Linked DNA regions of Homo sapiens: all the other regions are linked to region 2. Evidence: fine-mapped expression QTL. A gene starts in region 2. Each other region holds a variant in brackets. All regions are shown on one strand. Distances are from middle to middle.

Region 1 (5,190 bases), 22 kb before region 2:
CCTGGTGCGGTGGCGTGTCCCCTCCTGTGGTCCCAGCTACTTGGGAGGCTGAGGGAGGAGAATCACCTGAACCTGGGAGGCAAAGGTTGCAGTGAGCCAAGGTTGCTCCACTGCACTCCACAGCCTGGGCGACAGAGCAAGAGTTCGTCTCAAAAAAGAAAAAAGAGAGAAAAGCAAACAAAGGCTGGGCGCGGTGGCTCATGCCTGTAATCCCAGCACTTTGGGAGGCCGAGGAGGGCTGATCACGAGGTCAGGAATTTGAGACCAGTATGGCCAACATAGTGAAACCCCATTTCTACTAAAACTACAAAAAAAAAAAAAATTAGCCGAGTGTGGTAGTGTGCGCCTATAACCACAGCTACTCGAGAGGATGAGGCAGGAGAATTGCATGAACCCAGGAGGTGGAGGTTGCAGTGAACTGAGATCTCGCCATTGCACTCCAGTCTAGGCAACAGTGTGAGACTCTGTCTCAAAAGAAAATAAAATACAGAGGAGAGGAGAGGAGGGGAGGGGAGGAGAGGAGAGGGGAGGGGAGGGGATCTTGGAGAGCTATCCAAACTTCTCATTTCATCAGGAAGGAATCTGAGGGTTTAGTAACAAGGGGCCTCATCCCAGATGACTCAGATTTACTGGTCACTTCCTTTTCTGTTCAGGGAATCTGCCTCAGGCCAATACTAATTGGACCCCAGAGAGTCTTTATTCTACCATCTCAAAAACCTTGTTTAGGATTGTCTTAGCTATTTACTGCTGAGTGACAAAGGAGCATAAATTTGGCACCTAAAACAACACACATCGGCAGGGTGAAGTGGCTTACACTTGTAATCCCAATACTTTGGGAGGCTGAGGTATGAGGATCACTTGAGCCCAGCAGTTTGAGACCAGCCTCAGCAACATAGTGAGATACCATCTCTACCAAAAAATAAAAGTTGTTAAATTAGCTGGTCATGGTGATGTGTGCCTGCCATCCTAGCTACTCAGAAGGCTAAGGCAGGAGGATCACTTGAGCCCAGGAGTTCAAGGATGCAGTGAGCTATGATCATGCCACTGCATTCCAGCCTGGGTGACAAAGCAAGATTCTGGCTCACACACACACACACACACACACACACACACACACACACACACGTTTTCTCACAGTTTCTGTAGGTCAGGAATCTGGACACAGCTCAGCTGGTTCCTCCATTTTATGGTCTCTCACAAGACCACACTCAAGGTGTCAGGCAAGGTTGAGTCTTATCGAAAGGCCCAACTGGGGAGAATCTGCTTCCAAGCTCACTTTTTGGTCGTTGACATGACTCAATTGCTTTTAGGCAGTTGAACAAAGGGCCTTGATTCCTAGGTGTTTTTTCCCAGAAGGCACCCTGTGTTTCTTGCCTTGTGGGCCTCCCCAATCAAGCAACTTGCTTTATGAAAGCTTATAAAGGAGAGAGTCTGCCACCAAGACACAAGTCGTCATCTTATATTTACAGAGGTGACATCCTATCATCTTTGCTCTTCTCTGTTTGTTAAAACCAAATCGAAGGTCCTGCCTGCACACAATTGGGGACATTACACAAGGGTGAGAACACCAGGAGTCAGGGACCACAGGGAGCCATCTCAGAGTTCACTCAACACAAAGATATTAATCTTCATTAAGCTCTTTCTGCCCCAGAAAGCAGCCCAGCTTTTGTGGATGTTGTGAGGCCTGTCTCCCAGAAGGGCATTTATTAACCAAACAGTATACAAGATGGTATTAGTCCATTTTTATGCTGCTGATAAAGACATATCAGAGACTGGGCAATTTACAAAAGAAAGAGGTTTATTGGACTTAAAGTTCCACATGGCTGGAGAGGCCTCACAATCATGGTGGAATGTGAAAGTCACATCTCACATGGGGGCAAACAAGCGAAGAGAGAATTTGTGCAGGGAAACTCCCATTTCTAAAGCCACCAGACTTCATGAGACTCATTCACCATCTCAAGAACAGTGCAGGACAGACCTGCCCCCATTATTCAATCACTGCCCACC[A/G]GGTTCCTCCCACGACACATGGGAATTCTTGCAGTTACAATTCAAGATGAGATTTGGGTGGAGACACAGCCAAACCATGTGCAGTGGCACAATCGGCCCACTGCAACCTCTGCCATCCAGGTTCAAGCAATTCTCATGCCTCAGCCTCCTGAGTAGCTGGGATTACAGGCATGTGCCAGCACACCTGGCTGATTTTTGTATTTTTAGTAGAGACAAGGTTTCACCATGTTGGCCAGGCTGGTCTTGAACTCCTGACCTCAAGTGATCTGCCCACCTCAGCCTCCCAACATGCTGATGCCTGGCCCGATTTCTTCTTTTTCAATATAATGTGGAATTATCTGATATCTGGATCCAATTTAGTTGTTTATGGAACTGAAACTTCCATTTATTTTGTGGATTATTTCCAAAAACTGATTGGGACTTTGTGTCCGATTTCATTCGTTTCTGTGTGTCATCAAAAGCTGTATTTGTTATGGAGATTAATAATATGTTCTAATTCCCCAGAACTTAGCCATGTCTAACCCTGATATGGACAAGGTTCCATCACCTTTTATAAGACCTTTACAGTAAGTCTTCAATAAATATTTGTTGAATGAATGAGTAAATGACTGAATGGATGGGTGAATGGACACTTTCGCTGGCTTGGGTTTGGGCAGACAGTAGGAAGTGGGGGCCACTGTTTCACCAAAGGAATCACGCTGGAGAAAATCCCTGCATAGCATTGAGTTGTGCAACTATAAATCTATTCCCATAAATTCCAATCAATCCTGTAAACTTCAGAGCAAAAATGCCAGGCTGTGTTAGTTTGCTCAGGCTTCCGTAACAAAATACCACAGGCTGGGCAACTTAACAATAGGCGTTCGTTTTCTCACAGTTTTGGAGGTTAGAAGTCTGAGATCAAGGTGTTGGCATGGCTGGTTTCTCCTCAGGCTATGCCTTCTCCGTGTCCCCACATGTTGTTGGGTTTTTTTTTTTTTCTGTGTATGTGCAGCCTTCATGTCTCTCCCTCCTCCTATAAGGACACCAATCAGATTGAATTAGAGCCCACCCTAACAGCCTCGTTTAACTTAACTACCTCTTTAAAGACCGTGTCTCCAAAGACTGGGTGTGGTGGCTCACAATGTAATCCCAGCACTTTGGGAGGTGGGAGCGAAAAGATTGCTGGAGCCCAGGAGTTTGAGACCAGCAGGGCAACATAGTGAGGCTCTGTCTCTACAAACTGTTTAAAAAAACAGCTGGGTGTGGTGGCGCATGCCTGTAGTCCCAGCTACTCAGGAGGCTGAGGCAGGAGGATCGCTTCAGCCAGGTAGAAGAGGCTACAGTGAGCTATGATCATGCCACTGCACTCCAGCCTGGGCAACACAGCAAGATCCTGTCTCTAAAACAAAACAAAAATCAAAACCTTATCTCCAAATATAGTCACATTCTAAGGTAGTTGGGCTTAGGACGTCACTGTGTGACTTTGAGGGAAGTCACTATTTAGACCATACCACAGACCAGGCCTCGTTTTTGCAGGCCTTCCTGTCCTTGCCTCTCACCATCAGACCCTGTCAGTCCCCAAGTCAGTTGACTGAGGAGCCTTCTATCAGCAGCCCCAGACCATTCTTATGGGGGTGTGAGGGGACAGTGCAGGTCCCTAGAGGATATGTCCATCTTCTTTACTCTGGGGATCAGCCCAGAGTCTGGGGGCCACAGTGGACCCCTCTGAACAGCTGCTCCCCAACCCACACACTCCCACTCCCTTCAATGGGGCACCTCCCTACACGCCCGGCCCTCCTGCACTGCTCCTCAATTCCCATCCCTAACCTTGTCTCCTCACACAACTCCAAACCCTGAACTGCCTCCCAATGGCCCTCAGATTTAGCAGTGGCTGTAGACAGATTCGTGCAGGCACAAACCCTGATAGTAGGAAGCTCCCGAGGTGCCACTCCGCCCGAGCCCACGAGCATAGCGCTCACCCTTCCGGCGGTCCTCCCTCCCTCGTTGCTGTTCCTCCTCTTCCCCTTCCTGATCCCTCCTTGGATGGCTGACCTTTCAGCTTAAAGTCTCTGGCTCACTCCTGGGACCTGTGGAGAACGTTTTGGTTTGGTTTGGTTTTGGCTGTTCTCGCTACGCTGGTGAACTCTCAGTCCCGTGGAACTGATGCCATCTGTGCACTGATTGATTGCAAATCCATGTCCCCAGCTTGGCTCTCTGTGAACTCCAGACTCAGCTCTGTTCAGTGTCTTGGCTCGAATGTTTAATAAGGCATCTCATTCTTGACATGCCCCAAACTGAGCTCCTGCTCTCCCCCATAAAACTTCCTCCTCTGAAGTCTTCCCCACCCACGTTTATAGCATTCCCATTGTTGCACAACCATCTCCACCATCCATCTCCAGAACTTTCTCATCCCCCAGCTGAAACGCTACACCTATTAAACACTAGCTCCCCCTTCCCCAGCTCTTGACAGCCCCCATTCTACTTCCTGGGCCTGGGCTTTTACTTTGATGGTGTGGGCGCGATTGGTGGCCTTTGAGCAGAGGAGTGTATGATTTGACTTGGGTTTTAAAGAAGCCCTCGGGCGCTGCGTTGAGACTGACATGCCAGGCGTGAGGGAGAAAGCAGGACGCAGGGGGTCATTAGGAGGAGCCCAGAGGCTCAGCCAAAAAAAAAAAAAAAAGAAGCTGGGCGCATTGGGTCATGCCTGTAATCCCAGCACTTTGGGAGGCTGAGGCTGGTGGATCACGAGATCAGGAGATCGAGACCATCCTGGCTAACACGGTGAAACCCCATTTCTACGAAAAGTACAAAAAATTAGCCGGGTGTGGTTGCGGGCGCCTGTAGTCCCAGCTACTCGGGAGGCTGAGGCAGGAGAATGACGTGAACCCGGGAGGTGGAGCTTCCGGTGAGCCAAGATCACGCCACTGCACTCCAGCCTGGGCGACAGAGCGAGACTCCGTCTCAAAAAAAAAAAAACAACTTGGAATCATCCTGCTTCCTCTTTTTCTGTCTTTTTCTCTCATAGCCCACACCCAACCCATGAGGAAATCTCTGCCTTCAGAATATTCTCACTTCTCACACCTCCCTGCAAGCCCCCTGCTCCAAGTCACCCTCTCCCCTAGCCTGGATTCCTGTTTTGTCTTTCATTTGAGCCAACATTTAAAAAGCAGGAAGCTTCATCCAAAAATACGGATTTCTGCTTCT
Region 2 (5,196 bases):
GGGATTACAGGCCCGCAATGCCACACCCAGCTAATTTTTGTATTTTTAGTAGAGACGGGGTTTCACCATGTTGGCCAGGCTGGTCTTGAACTTCCAACGTCGTGATCCGCCTGCCTTGGCCTCCCAAAGTGCTGGGATTACAGGCGTGAGCCACTGCGCCTGGCCTATTTCTTTTTTTCTTTTCTTTTCTTTTGAGATGGAATCTTGCCCGGGTTGGAGTGCAATGGCGTGATTTTGGCTCACCGCAACCTCCACCTCCCGGGCTCAAGCGATTCTCCTGCCTCAGCCTCTCAAGTAGCTGGGATTACAGGCGCGTGAACCACCACGCCCAGCTAATTTTTGTATTTTTAGTAGAGACTGGGTTTCACCATTTGGGCCAGGCTGGTCTGGAACTCCCGACCTCAGGTGATCTGCCTGCCTCAGCCTCCCAAAGTGCTAGGATTACAGTGGTGAACCACCGCGCCTAGCCTGTTTCTTTTGTTTCAAAAGTGATTTTTACCTCTCAAAAGTGATTTCTATAATGACACTGATGGAAAATTCCATCAAATAGCCATAACGCATGTCAAGCACTCTGCTCTGCATACCTTCTGTCACACTCTAAGGATGAGAGAGGGGAGAGTTATCCTGGTTCTGGCTGTGTCCTCCCCATTTTGGCCATCTTATGAGCTCCTTATAGAGGTCTGAAATGATTTGGAGTCCAGAGTCCATGGCTGTCAGGATATGACTAGGGTGAGCAGGCAGTTGGGACCACCTTGACCTCCAGCCTCCTGGTCCTCAGTTCCTCGGGTATCCCACTCTGCTGGGGGCTTAGTGACCATGTTTGGGCTCCAGAGATTATTTTTTCCTTCCACTCCTATCCTTAGTTTGTTACTAACCAGGCGGGAGTACAGGCATGTCTCTGAAGACAGGCTCAGGGCTGTGTGACAGCTGACGACCAGGCTGCAGGGAACCAGGTCCCATGCAGTCCTACTGCCTTTTTTTTTTTTTTTTTTTTTTTTTTTGAGGCGGAGTCTCGCTTTTCGCCCAGGCTGGAGTGCAGTGGCACGATCTCAGCTCACGGGTTCACGCCATTCTCCTGCCTCCGCCTCCCGAGTAGCTGGGACTACAGGCGCCCGCCACCACGCCCGGCTAATTTTTTGTATTTTTACTAGAGACGGGGTTTCACCGTGTTAGCCAGGATAATCTTGATCTCCTGACCTCGTGATCCGCCCGCCTCGGCCTCCCAAAGTGCTGGGATTACAGGCGTGAGCCACTGCACCCGGCTACTGCCTTCTTACTGTCGCCACAGCCTGGATAAAATACGATTCTTCTGAGCCTTTTTTTTTTTTTTAATACAGAGTTTCACTCTTGTTGCCTAGGCTGGAGTGCAATAGTGCGATCTCTGGTCACCGCAACCTCCGCCTCCCGGGTTCAAGCGATTCTCCTGCTTCAGTCTCCCGAGTAGCTGGGATTACTGACACGCGCCACCACGCCCGGCTAGTTTTGTATTTTTAGTAGAGACGGGGTTTCTCCATGTTGGTCAGGATGGTCTCGAACTCCCGACCTCAGGTGACTCACCGGCCTCGGCCTCCCAAAATGCTGGGATTACAGGCGTGAGCCACCGAACCCAGCCCCTCTGAGCCTCTTGAATACAACTGGGGTCATGCCTGCTTTGCAGGTTTGTCTTAAGGATTAAAGCTGTTTGGGGAGTGTCTGGAGGAGGGTGAGTCTTGAGCCAACCCCTGCATCTCCCTTCCAGGGCCTCCCGGTAATAAACCCCAAGTAAATGTGCACTTTGTCCGTCCTCTCGGAGCAGGTCTCCGGGTACTCCTGTGCCAAACCGATTTCCGCCCCCAAGGTCCTTCTCCTCTTAGAAATCCTGACGCAGCTCCTAGGTTCCTTCGCAGTGACAGCCACTCTTTTCTATTTGTACGTAGCTGTAGTGTTTTGTGGGTACGTTCTCTGAACAACAAAGTGGCCCTTCTAAAGGCTGTTCTGTGGGGTCCACAGCCTCGCCACCCCCAGCCTCTGCAGCGGCTTCTGAATGAATGAAATAAGCGACGGCGCCCTCTCCACCACCCCACCCCCGCCAACTCGGCAGGCAGGGATCCCAGGCGCGGGTTCTGGCGGAGGCGGTCCCGCGAGGCGGGGGGACTTTTCTAGGCGGGGTGGGGGCCTTGGGACCACCTTTAGGGGCTTTTTCCCCATCCCCTGGCCCCAATTCGCAGCGTTTCGCCACCCAGGGCCCGCAGGGCTCCAAGCCCTTCTTCCCCAGCCCGCGCGCTCAGGCCCCCGCCCGCCCCCGGCGGTGGCCCCGGACCCCGAGCGGAAGGGGGCGGGGGGTGTGCGGGGCCGGGAAGCGGGGAGCGCGGGCGGCGGAAGGTGGCGGGAGGGGGTGGGGGCTGGGAAGCACCGTGCGCGGGCGGCGGGAGGGCCCGGGCGGGGCTGCGCGGTGGTCACGTGGGGCGGGGCCGGGAGGGTACTTAGGGCCGGGGCTGGCCCAGGCTACGGCGGCTGCAGGGCTCCGGCAACCGCTCCGGCAACGCCAACCGCTCCGCTGCGCGCAGGCTGGGCTGCAGGCTCTCGGCTGCAGCGCTGGGTGAGTGCTGGGGACCCGGGGCCACCGCAGCGTAAGTGACCTTGGCGGGGACGGTGCTACCCGGCCGCCGAGACGGGTTCCTCTGCGCCCTCAGTCGGGCCCAGGCGCGGCCCCGCGGCGTCCCTGGGGGCCGGCGGGGAGCCGGGACCCTCGGGACTGTCCCTGACGGGCGGGCTGGGGTGGGAGTCCGCGCGCTCCGAAGCGTCGGCGAGAAAAGCAGAAAACAGCTCCGCCCGCCAGCCCTCTGCCCTCCGCTCCCCTCCCCGGGCTGTGCGCCGGACCCCGGCCCTCGGAGCGGGGACGCGGCCAGGACCGCCGAGGGAGGCGCCTGCGAGGAAGAGCTCGGCCGGGTCCGGAGACTGCTGCCTGGGACCGCGCTCCCAGCGCCTGGGCCTCGGTGTCTCCGGGCCAAACTGCCGACATAATCGCATCTGCCGGCATCTATTTTCGGTTTATTTCCCCCTCATTGCGAAGGATTTGCCTGGCCAACTTTCTGCGCAAGATCCCACGCAATTCCTGGGACCCCAGAAGACAGGTCCTGTTGAAGAACAGGAATCTGGCACTGGGTGGGCTGGGGAGGAAGCCGCACGGTGTTAAATCCATAAACAGGAAGAGAAACCAGACAGCGAAACCAAGAGGCGAATGGGCGATTGGATGCCGGTGGGGAGAAGGCCGGGGGCGCACCCTGCTCCTGGACTCCAGTAAAGGGAGGCCGGGCAGAGTCCCTGGGGCGCCACCTCCCCCTCGGTTAGTAGCCCTGGAGGCCGGGGGGAGTTGGCCTCTGGGGAGCAGTGGGTGCTGGGTGTGGGGCGTTGCAGGCAGGCTGGGGTGGGCGACCCAGGTGGAAGTGAATTGCACTTGGCTTCCTGGTGGGCCTCTGTCACCCCCTTCCCAGGCGCTGAGAAAGCCAGCAGGCTGGCAAAGAAAAGGACCCTAGCGCAGGCCCCACACTCCTCCTCCTAACGGACGAGAGACCCCCCAAACCCACTGGAGAAGTGACGCTGTGGGGTTCAAATGCAGACCTGGCACCTTTTTGTAGCCTGGAAAAACATTCCCACTGCCTGCTGCCGGAGGAGAGGATAGCTGAGATGCACTCTCTTTGAATCCAAACGTTCAGGAACGTAAGGCGAAGAGGCCTAAGAGGGCGTTGGCTGGCTCTGTCTCTCAGGCTGGAGCACAGTGGCGCGATCTCGGCTCACTACAACTTCCGCCTCCCAAATTCAAGCTATTCTCCTGCCTCAGCCTCCCGAGTAGCTGGGATTACAGGTGCCCGCCACCACGCCCAGCTAATTTTTGTATTTTTAGTAGAGATGGGGTTTCACCATGTTGACCAGGCAGATCTTGACCTCCTGACCTCAGGTGATCCGCCTGTCTCGGCCTCCCGGTGAGTCACGGTGCCTGGCCAAGAACTGTTTCTTGTTGGCTCTGGTGCTGGTGACTTAGAACCCGCCAGCTCCTGGAGAAAGGGGCTGGGCCGCCCACCCTGTGTAGCTTTCCCAAAGACAGAGTCAAACGTCTCCTGGAGAACAGAGGCTTCCCTTCGTCTTTGGTCATTTGTCCTCTAGCTGGGGGTACCCCCTGGTGGAAAGGCACAGGTCCCTTGCTCCCCAGGTGGCAACGCAGGCCAGACACGGCCCTGGCACAGCTCTCCTGGGTGTTGGCTCAGGACAGCCCTGTTTCCAACTGGTTAGGCGGTGAGGGGTGGTGGCCCTTTGGTTCCAGGTTGAAACTGCCCATGTGGTGCTGATTTAGCAGACTGGGGAGGCTCTTTTTGTAGGCAGGTTCTTTTCTTTCCCCAGCTGCTGGACCTGGGAGTTGGAAGAGAAGTTGCACCCATTTTAGGGGTAACAGATATTTTCTGTTGCTCTTGGTTGGATTGGGAAGTGAATTGAAGGGAGGTCACGTTTCAGGGGTGCCTTGGGATGTCTGTCAGTGATTTTCTTTTCTTTCTTAATTTCTTTTTCTTTCTTTTTTTTTTTTTTTTGAGACACACTCCCTCTATCGCTCAGGCTGGAGTGCAGTGGTGCGATCTCGGTTCACTGCCACCTCCGCCTCTCATGTTGAAGCAATTCTCCTGTCTCAGCCTCCCTCCCAAGTAGCTGGGATTGCCAGTGCCCATCACCACACCTGGCTTTTTTTTTTTTTTTTGTATTTTTAGTAGAGACGGGCTTTCACCATGTTAGCCAGGCTGGTTTTCGAACTCCTGATCTCAAGTGATCCGCCTCAGCCTCCCAAAGTGGTAGGATTACAGGCATGAGCCACCGCGCGGTGGAGGGGTAATTTTCTTAAATCTGGTAATGAGTTGTGGTTGTGTAGAGTAACATACCGTCCTTTCGAGATATGGACTGAAACATTGAGAGGGAGGAGTTACAGGTATGTCGATTCTTCTTTTCTCTCTCTCCTTTTTTTTTTTGAGGTGGAGTCTGACTCTCTCACCCAGGCTGGAGTGCAGTGGCAAGATCTCAGCTCACTGCAACTCCGCTTCCTGTGTTCAAGCCATTCTCCTGCCTCAGTCTCTCAACTAGCTGCGATTACAGGCATGTGCCTCCACACTCAGCTAATTTTTTTATTTTTAGTAGAGATTTTTTGTCTCTCCTAAAAAAATCCAATGTAAAAAA
Region 3 (5,196 bases), 310 kb before region 2:
AGCAGCCCTACTATGTGCTTCAGAGCAGGGTTCCCTAAGCCCTTGGGCCTCGGTTTCCTCATCTATAAAATGGAGGTGGCGGGAGCGGCAGTCGGGGTCAGGGCTGGACACAGCTGTGGACTGCAGGACGCTGGAGCACAGGCTGTACAGGCGGATCCACCACGCCACTGTCCTGAGCACCCAGTTGATGGAAGACGAGCAGGGTGACTATAGAGAAGGGAAACTGGCCCCGTAGTGGGCCAGCCACTGTCCTCAGACCTGACATTTGTCAACCCCCAGCACCTGTGAGGGTGTGCTGTCATTGTCCCATCTCACCGACAAAGACACTAGGACACACAGAGGCCAAGTGACCCCCGAGCTCCCGCAGACTGCAGCCCGGCCACCTGGCTCTCGTGCCTCCACACTACACCCAAGCCCCCCATTGCCACCAGCCTCTGCCCCAGCTCCCCCTGAGCACAGCCCCTCCTGGCAGCCATGTGCACAGATGTACCCGCAGCAGCCTCTGCCTGTACACAGAGACATGGATGACCCAGTGCCTGTCCACGTGGGGCAGCCCATTAACTACAGAGTCAACAAACAAGCCAGCACATGAAGGCATACTGGGTTCCATGACAGAGTCCCACACAACCTCGCACAGGAGGCTGGCCGGGCGCGGGGCTCAGGCCTGTCATCCCAGCACTTTAGGAAGCTAAAGCAGGAGGACTACTTGACCCCAAGTGTTCAAGACCAACTTGGGCCACATAGTGGGACCCCATCTTCACAAAACATACAGAAACTAGCCAGATGTGGTTGCACACACCTGTAGTCCCAGCTACTCGGGAGGCTGAGGTGGGAGGATGGCTTCAGCCCATGAGGTGGAGGCTGCAGTGAGCCCTGATCTCACCACTGCACTCCAGCGTGGGTAACAGAGCAAGACCCTGTCTCAAAAAAGCAAAAAAGCAAAAAAAAAAAAAAAAAAAAAAAAAAAGGAAGTCTTTCTTCAGATACTTACGTGAAAAAAAACCTGCAATATCTTTTAAGTGAAAAAAACAGTGCCAAGCAGCACACATAGTATAAGCCTCAACCAACCTTTTTTTTTTTTTTGAGACAGAGTCTGGCTGTGCCCGGCCACTTTCTAAGCTTTGTGAAGAGTGAGTTGACTGAGCAGCCAGGGAGATGTGGGTTCAGATCTCTGCTTCTGTCCTGCTGTGCCAAGTGCTGGGGCAGACGCAGGCACAGAGTGGACAGCGGCATGGTGCCTGCTGCTAGCCATTTCTATGCAAAACCAGAGTTCTGGTCCCATCCTGGAGGCGAATTCTAGGTATGTGGGTGGGCCTCGGAACCTGTGAACCAAGTAAACTGACTTAGACACCCCCCACCCCGCCAGGCCTGTCCTAGCAGCCCCACACAAAACGCTCATGTCCTGTCCCCAAACACCGCCATCCTCAAACACGTGCTTTGTTTCCAGGCCGGGATGGGATCAGATGGGAAGCGGAAGCTCATCATGACCAGAAACTGTTTCCCTATGGAGAGCACTTGGAGATGGCAATGCTGAACCTCACACTGTAGGACTCACACATGACTCCAAAGGGATTGTGAGAATCAAGTCACTCTCGTGGGAAGAATTTTTATATGGGAAAGTGGATAAAACTTTCATTGGACTGGAATGTTTGGAGATTATTAAACTCCAAATCAGGAATCAAAACTGCCCTCTAATAAGACATTAGCTGTCTAGGCGTGTGGGTGCCCCCTTTCTGCCAGCAGTTCTGGTTCTCAAGAAAATCATCATAAATCAGACATGAAAATTCTAGCTCCAAAAATAGCATTTTCTTTCTGCAAATAAAAACGTGTGTATCAAGGATGACGTTCCCCCAACGTGGACACACTCGGTTCCTCAGAAAGCCAAGCCCGCTGCAGCTGCCACATCCCTGGACACACTCGGTTCCTCACAAAGCCAAGCCCGCTGCAGCTGCCACATCCCTGGACACACTCGGTTCCTCACAAAGCCAAGCCCGCTGCAGCTGCCACATCCCTGGACACACTCGGTTCCTCACAAAGCCAAGCCCGCTGCAGCTGCCACATCCCAGGGCTTATGGTGCAGCAGGCGCTTTTTTCAAGACAGGAATGAAAGTGTTAGGAACACGGCAGAAAGGTGACACCTGGAGACCAAATGCAGGATGAGGAGTACTGCAGAGGTCACAGGGAAGTCACAGAACAGTAATACGCTAGCAGGGGCATGGGGCATGAAGAACAGAAGACAGGAAGCATTTCAGAGACTCCAAAGAAGAAATCAGGGCCAACCACAGCTTCCCGGGTCATTCACCAGGTGACACCACTGCCGTCATTTCAGCTTCTGGCCACTGGGAGGCGCTGCTCGAAAGGCTTTGCCCTGAGACTCCAAGAAGCTGCGGGAAGGACAGCAGGGGCCCTGGGGTTTTAGCCTCTGGCCCAGGAGTTATGTGTCCATAACCAAAGGGAGCACAGTCTGCACCCAGCTCTCATCCCATCAGAGCTGCTGAGACTCTTGCAGGTTCTTCCAGAACTGGCTTAGCTTGCCTGCAGGATCAGAAAAGTTTGAGAAAAGCATCTGCAAAATGCTAAAGAGCAGAGCTTAACTCATTGCCTGTCCCCACCCCATCCCAGGTCACCACTTGGATGACCCCAGGTCCCCGACCCAACAACAACCCCTCCCAAGTCCCTAACTCCCTCACTTGGACTTGAGACCCTTCACAACCCCCCTCACTTGGACTTGAGACCCTTCACAACCCAGCAGCGCTCCACTTCCAACTTGACATCATGCTTTCTGGAAACTTCCCCGTATGTC[C/T]CACTTTCCCACACTTGGTGCCCTGGAGCACCTTCCGGCCTCTACATGCTGTACGTTCCCCTGTGAGCACCCTCCTCTCGGCCTCTGGCCAACACAGTCCCACCCATCTGTGGGTAACAAGGGGGTGTGGGTGTTCTTTTCAGCCTTGCTAAACTGTCTGAATCAAGGATCACAAACTACAGCCTGCAGGCCAAATCCAGCCCACAGCCTGTGTTTGTAAATAAAGCTTTGTTGGAACAAAGCCACACCCCTTAATCTACAGATGATCTGTGGCTACTTTCACACCACAACAGAGTACCATGGTTCTGACAGAGACTGGGGTACCCTGTCTAAATGACTTCTGACCTGGACATTTACTGAAAATCCTCCCAATCATTCTGTTGACAAGAATGATGTATTACTTTTTGCAATAAGAAACAAGTAACCTTTGCAGAATTCCACCCATCTTTCAAGGCTGGTCCCAGAAGTTCCCTTTGCCCACGCACCTACCTGATCCGATCACTTCCTAAACTGCAGCCCGGCCCACCCGGCTCCAGCATCGTTTATGGAGTGTCAGCTCCATAAATCCAGAGGGCAGGTGGGGTTGTGTCCTAACTTTCCCGAGCCTACTGTACCGAAATGGGACAGCAGAGTAGGAGGCCTCTGTGACTTCTGCTCCCCCACTAGCTTTTCCACCAGACCCCCCATGGTCCCACCCTGGCTGTGGGAAGCAGGGATCAGGGAGCGTGGCTCGATGCCAGTCTCCAGAACCCTGCCCACCCTGGCGTGGTGGCAGACATGGCTACCTGCAGCTGAGCTGCCAGTTCCTCTGACTCCTCAAAGATCAGGCCATTTTCTACATGTTTCACCAGCTCATGTAAACTGCAGACAGAACCAAGGGAGCCTGAGAGCTGCCTGGGGAAGACACCAGACTCCTGGGGTGCCCAGCTGGGATCCCACCCACCCCACGCTCAAGCCAGGCTGGGGTTTGGAACAGGGGGTGTGGTTTCTGGGAGCTGGTTCTTAGATTTGGCATCTGAAGGGTATAAAGGCCTGGGGGGGTGCACATCAAAATGACCAAACCGATTTGAGGAGGGAGCCTTAAGGAAGGTTTGTACCTTCTGTGCTGGATGCTCTTCAAGTACTGAAGAATTACTTTTGCATGTTTTTCTTAATTCCATGGCCATGGAACAAGTAAAGGCAACCCCCTGGGGACTGGTTCAGCACATAAAAGATGACTTTTCTAGGACACCAGATTTGATCCCCACATTCCCTGAGCTCAGCTCACACGAGGGGCTCGCATCCCTGAATCCCATCCAGGAGCCGGCTGCTGAGCAGGGGCCAAGGGCTCAACTTGTGCTGGGGCTACTGCTTCTAGAATCTCCTCTAATGCCACCCTTCCAAACACCCGTCTATGCTGGGTGGAGTGAGGCCACAGCATGACACTCATTTAACTCATTCAAACCCACCATGTGAGCTTGGCCAAAAGGGACATGGTGGGAGAGAAAAACAAAGAAAACCATGTAAGCCTGCAGGCATTTCCCGCCAATTCTACTCTAGGAGCAAAAGCCCCGAGTGGAGTTCTAGTATTTAAGGTGCTTTATTTTTTTTTCATATTGGGTTGGTGCAAAAGTAATTTTCAGTTTTAATGGCAAAAACCGTGATTACTTTTGTACCAACCTAAATATAGCATGAGCTCTAAATGGAAGCACCTACTTCAGTGAGGCTCAGCCCAGCCACAGTAACCGCAGGGCTCCTCCTCGTGGCCTCCAGTGTGTGCTGGACTGACCAAGGGGCAGGGCCTCACTTTGGGCAGCTCACTCTGCACTGCTTCCCCGTCAGCGGTGGATCTGTGAAGCTATCCCCAGAAAGATTCGGGTTCTGCTCCTACCACTTGAAGTTCACGGCACACGCAGGCAAACAGCACCTGAACATGTCCACCACCTTCATGGGCAGGTCCAGGCCACTGGAGGATGTGTCCAGAGAGACACCCAGGTCCACCAACCCTGCTAGGCAAGAGGGGTGGGTCAGAGTGCTGGTCTCTGCCCTGGGAACACAAATCCTCCCAGCACAGTGAGACAACATCCCCCGAGGGGAGTGAAAATTGGATAAGGCCCCCGACAGCCCCAAGCACAAGTGGCTTAAGCTGGCCAAGCAGCCACACGGCCTGGCTGGGACATCTGAAAATGTAAGTTGACACTTTTTCTACGTAACCACAATTTGTTTTTTTGTTGTTGTTGTTTGTTTTGTTTTGAGACAGAGTCTCACTCTGTCACCCAGGCTGGAGTGCAGTGGCACAATCTCAGCTCCCTGCAACCTCCACCTCCCAGGTTCACCTCCCGCCTGTAATCCCAGCATTTTGGGAGGCCAAGGCGGGTGGATCACCTGAGGTCAGGAGTTCAAGACCAGCCTGG
Region 4 (5,000 bases), 74 kb after region 2:
CATACTCCCATTACAGTAGGATTTGGCTTTGTATTTTGTTTAGCCTTGTATTGCCAAATCCTAGCATTTAGGAGGCATTTAAGAAATATTTATGAAATGTCTAAAGCCACTGTGAAAATCTATGTTAAATCCCCCGTTTTTCACAATGTCAGTTATCACAAAACCCCAACTCATGAACTAAACCAATCTTTCACCTTAGAGTCTGTCGAGTCCAAGTGTGTCCGGAATTGGTTGGTTCTTGGTCTCACTGACTTCAGGAATGAAACCGCCCACCCTCGCGGTGAGTGTTACAGTTCTTAAAGGCGGCGTGTCCGGAGTCTGTTCCTTCTGATGTTCAGATGTGTTCGGAGTTTCTTCCTTCTGGTGGGTTCGTGGTCTCGCTGGCTCAGGAGTGAAGCTGCAGACCGTCACAGCGAGTATTACAGCTCTTAAGTCGGCGCGTCTGGAGTTGTTTGTTTCTCCCAGTGGGTTCGTTGTCTTACTGGCTTCAGGAGTGAAGCTGCAAACCTACCCTGTGAGTGTTACAGCTCATAAAGGCAGTGCAGACCGAAACAGACAAGTATTAAAATTTATTGCAAACAACAAAGCTTCCCAAGCGTTGTAAAGCAAACCCAGCGTGTTGCCACCGTTTTTTTTAAGGCAGCCCGCTTTTATGCTCTTATCTGGCCCCACCCACACCCTGCTGATTGGTCCATTTTACAGAAAGCCGATTGGTCTGTTTTACAGAGAGCTGATTTGTCCGTTTTGACAGGGTGCTGATTGGTGCGGTTACAATCCCTGAGCTAGACATAAAAGGTCTCCACCTCCCCACTAGATTAGCTAGATACAGAGTGTCCATTGGTGTATTTACAAACTCTGAGCTAGACACAGGGTGCTGATTGGTGTGTTTACAAACCTTGAGCTAGATACAGAGTGCTGATTGGTGTATTTACAATCCCTTAGCTAGACATAAATATTCTCCAAGTCCCCACCAGACTCAGGAGCCCAGCTGGCTTCACCCAGTGGATCCCGCGCAGGGCCGCAGGTGGAGCTGCCTGCCACTCCCGTGCCATCCGCCCGCACTCCTCAGCTCTTGGGCGGTCGACGGGACTGGGCGCCGTGGAACAGGGGGTGGCGCTCGTCGGGGAGGCTTGGGCCGCGCAGGAGCCCACGGCGGCGGCGCGGGGGAGGCTCAGGCATGGCGGGCTGCAGGTCCCGAGCCCTGCCCCGCGGGGAGGCAGCTAAGGCCTGTTGAGAAATCAAGCACGGCGGCTGCTGGCCCAGGTGCTAAGCCCCTCACTGCCCTGGCCGGCGGGGCCGGCCGCCCGCTCCAAGTGCGGCCCGCCGAGCCCACGCCCACCCGGAACTTGCGCTGGCCCGCAAGCGCCGCGCGCAGCCCTGGTTCCCGCCAGTGCCTCTCACTCCACACCTCCCCGCAAGCCGAGGGAGCCGGCTCCGGACTAGGCCAGCCCAGAGAAGGGCTCCCACGGTGCAGCGGTGGGCTGAAGGGCTCCTCAAGCGCGGCCAGAATGGGCGCCGAGGCCGAGGAGGCACCGAGAGCGAGCAAGGGCTGCAGGGCTGCCAGCATGCTGCCGCCTCTCACACGTATCCCGCCTCTCCTTACTAAGATGGAAGCCTAGATTCACCCCCGACCCCCCATATTTCCGTGCCCTCCTTCACAGTCCTGTCAAGCGAAAACCTCTCCTCCTTCCAGGCAACAGGCACAGGCACAAAAGGCATAACCGCCACTGGTCACACTCCACCCTGCTGTCTCTGTACCATCTCCTCTCTTTCAGTCCACTTACAACATATCGTGCCTACCTCCTTTTATGTATTTATTTAAAATTTTTATTTTTTTATTTTTGAGACAAGGTCTTACTCTGTCACCCAGACTGGAGTACAGTGACATCATCTCGGCTCACTGCAGCCTTGACCTCCTGGGCTCAAGTGATCCTTCCACCTCAACCTCCCTAGTAGCTGGGACTACAGGTATGCATCACCATGCCTGGCTAATTTTTGTATTTTTTGTAGAGATGGGGTCTCGCTATGTTGCCCAGGCTGGTCTCGAACTCCCGGGGTCAAGCAATCCTCCTGCCTCAGCCTCCCAAAGTGCTGGGATTACAGGCGTGAGCCACTGCACCAGGCCCTACCTCCTTTTGGAACCAACCTGAAACCCACTGAG[G/A]ACCTACTGCCAGGGTGAATTAGATCTCACTCACTGGGAGAGAAGCATGGGAGTGTGGGTTGTTACCTGCCCACATTCCCCCTTCCCCACCTCTTCCATGAGGAACATGTTCCATGGAGTTCCAACGGCACCAACCACAACACTTAGTCTCAACTGTTAGGTACTAGTATTTTCCCAATTATTAGTTTTTTCCGTAAGTCACTGCAGTCAGAGACACTATGAGCAAAGCTGCTCCAGAGATCCTCCTAAGGCAGGGATGAAGGTCATTCTTTCATGTTTCACTCTATAAACTTTGTATTGTGTGACTCTTTTGACGTCTGTAATTTTAAAAAAATAATGTTTCTCCTTGTCCCTTAGGTCTCCCACCATCCTTACCCTGACAAACGTCCATGTCCATTGTGGGGTAATCCAACATCCAATGTCTCCATTTTTTATCCTAAGCCACTGGATGCTGTCAGGGAAAGTCAGGAAATGCACAGGTGTCCTGGGCTTGCCATGTGGCTCTACAGCCCTTCCCTCTAACCCGAAGTGATCACGTTTCCCTTACAGCCGTTACAAACCTGCCCACTCTTCTGTACCCCAAAGGCCTCACTTTTAGCAAATTTTCTAGGGACTTGTTATTCTTTCTCTTCCCACCCTAGTCCAGTCATCTTTAAGCGACAGCTCTGGTGTGAGCTTTCTCTCTCTCTCTCCTGGTTTTCTCCCCTGAACTAACTATACATACATTTTCACGTTATATTCATCCTTTGCTCTCCTCCCTAGCCTTCATTTTTTTTTTTCACATTTCTTACTTTTATTTCAACATTTAAAATATTCATAGATGGAGTATTATATTCAGACATCTCCAAGGAAGATGTATGAAAACAAAACATACAGGCATTTCACAATTACAGAATTGCATATTTGTGATTATGTGAATGTTTACCCTAGAGTTGATCTGGAAAAACACCATTTAAAAAAAAAACTTTTGCGTGATTCACTGGATTAATTTCCATAAAAAATGAACTGCAAATAATTTCAGGATACCTAAATATTAGTACTTTTTAAAATTTTCAAACTTTTATGGTATTCTACTAACATATCTCCTACAAGGAACACTTAATACTTAATTCTTTCTTTTTACCCTCAATAGCCAAGTCAGAATATACTTATTTCATTTTTCACCCAAGTCTTTGTTTCTAAACACATTATGTAGAATAGATTTGGTCGTCACAGCATCTTGAGTAGCTAATGAGGTAGGAGTATTCTTAAGTTCTTAGACATTAATAAAGCAAAGCAAAAGACAAGCAAATTACGAAGTTTTTCTTTTTTAGTGGTTGTTCTTTAAGTAAAATGCTAAGAGCACTGGAAATTGGTCAAAAGCTGCTCACATTTTAAAAACAAAGAGGAAAAACCCATTAGAAAGCCCTGATACACATAGAGTCTGTTAAAGGGAAAAACCTGAGTACTGGAATTAAATTCATTTTGACATTATAAGGTAAGGGATCTATGCCTAAAAATGCCAAGCTTTCTGCCTTGGAAAAAAAGTCTTACCAAGGAGATAAAATTTAAACAGAAAACAAAATTAATCTATACTTTCTTTTCAGAACAAGTTAATTTGCTTCTTTTAACCCACTTCTCTTTTCCTATACACAAAAAAGATCAATAATTTCAGTATACTGCATATCCAGTAACACATTTCAATGAAGTTAGCAGTCAACTTACCAACTGTGCCAGAGAAACACTCCTTATATGGAGGCTTCATTAACATAATGCTAAAGAGCTAGAAAACATGTAGGCAATAGATTTCAGCACCATCTGTTAATAGCGTTTCAAAATGCGTACACCCCCTAAATTCATATAAACCTAGGAAATTTACCCATCATTCTCTCCGTATCTACACCAAAAATCAAAGTTCTGTATTCTAACCATCCTGTGTGCCAAAAATAAGAAATACTTAAAAATCTATCCAATTAAGTTAATAGGACACAAACATGTTCCCCAAAAAAGGAGGGAAGTTACCAATCAAGCATGACGTGTCTAAAATACAAATTTTGGGAGTTTCTCTGAACCTACTCTGGTTCAAAGGGCTGCCAAAAAAAAAAAAACCACATATTTTTAATACATTGGTACCTATTATTTGATGAAGGCTAAATGACAAGAAGAGATTTATTTTACTAATATGCACCTCTTAAGGTTACTGCTAAATAGACTTTAAAAAGTCATCTAAAAAATGTTTTAAAAATACAACAGAATAGCTGCTAGAAAGAAAATTGATAACTATGTGGCCTGGCAAATGATTTTCAAATTAAGTCCTTGACAATCAACTACAAAATGTTTTAGATGTACGAATCAAACTTGGTAGCAAAATAGTGCAAAACTCTGATATGGCAGCCCTTAATAGCAGGTAATCATTTGAGATTTGCTACCAAAAATAAATTGTCAACAAGAATCTTTTATATGTCTTTAAACCTTTCCTTTTTCTACTCTACCCAGAATTGTGTTCCACTGCAGTTATAAAAATCTCAAAATATCATATGTATATCATTTAGATAGAAGATAATTATTTCCTCTTCACTGCCGCCTCCTTTAATTTCAGTTATAGTTCCCTTTATAAACATTCTTTTCCTAAGGCACACCATGCCCTATTTATTGCCACAAAGCCACTAAAATCTGTGCCTCAGTCTGTCTGCTTCATGGCTGTGGTTAAATACAAACCACTTGCTAGTGTCTGCTAAAACTTAGTAACATCAAGACTAGAATGTCATTGTCTGATCTACTGGGGCAAAGGCCGAAATACACAAGCATGTGCTCATACGCTCTTTTCCCTACAAACTAACCATATTACCTACCGACAGTA

What was found. PIP is the estimated chance that this variant, and not a neighbour inherited with it, causes the effect. A credible set is the group of variants that fine-mapping cannot tell apart.
Region 1: its variant is the best candidate, but not a certain one, in a credible set for the expression of CTSB in lung (TOPMed, PIP 0.55).
Region 3: its variant is the best candidate, but not a certain one, in a credible set for the expression of CTSB in prefrontal cortex (GTEx, PIP 0.62).
Region 4: its variant is the best candidate, but not a certain one, in a credible set for the expression of CTSB in skeletal muscle (FUSION, PIP 0.81).

The regions. Positions count from the first base shown.
Region 1 is chr8:11,887,177-11,892,366 of GRCh38, reverse strand. No RefSeq gene overlaps it. Among named protein-coding and RNA genes, the nearest start is that of CTSB, 22 kb to the right of the region's middle. RefSeq lists a silencer at 1,059-1,242. The variant A/G (reference allele first, on the strand shown) is at 2,008.
Region 2 is chr8:11,865,383-11,870,578 of GRCh38, reverse strand. It overlaps CTSB (cathepsin B), which reads left to right and starts at 2,492. Exons shown (of 10, transcript NM_001908.5): 1 at 2,492-2,578. RefSeq lists silencers at 2,339-2,458, 2,599-2,928 and an enhancer at 3,019-3,228.
Region 3 is chr8:12,179,958-12,185,153 of GRCh38, reverse strand. FAM86B1 (family with sequence similarity 86 member B1 (gene/pseudogene)) reads left to right here. Exons shown (of 7, transcript NM_001083537.4): 7 at 1,448-3,048. The coding sequence ends at 1,548. It also overlaps the pseudogene ALG1L11P. Among named protein-coding and RNA genes, the nearest start is that of FAM85A, 3.2 kb to the left of the region's middle. RefSeq lists enhancers at 3,075-3,574, 3,575-4,076, 4,216-4,726, 4,727-5,196. The variant C/T (reference allele first, on the strand shown) is at 2,804.
Region 4 is chr8:11,791,206-11,796,205 of GRCh38, reverse strand. All of the region lies in intron 1 of LOC105379243 (a long non-coding RNA gene), which reads left to right. It also overlaps the pseudogene SUB1P1 and a transcript of FDFT1 not described here. Among named protein-coding and RNA genes, the nearest start is that of FDFT1, 9.0 kb to the left of the region's middle. RefSeq lists an enhancer at 672-966. The variant G/A (reference allele first, on the strand shown) is at 2,162.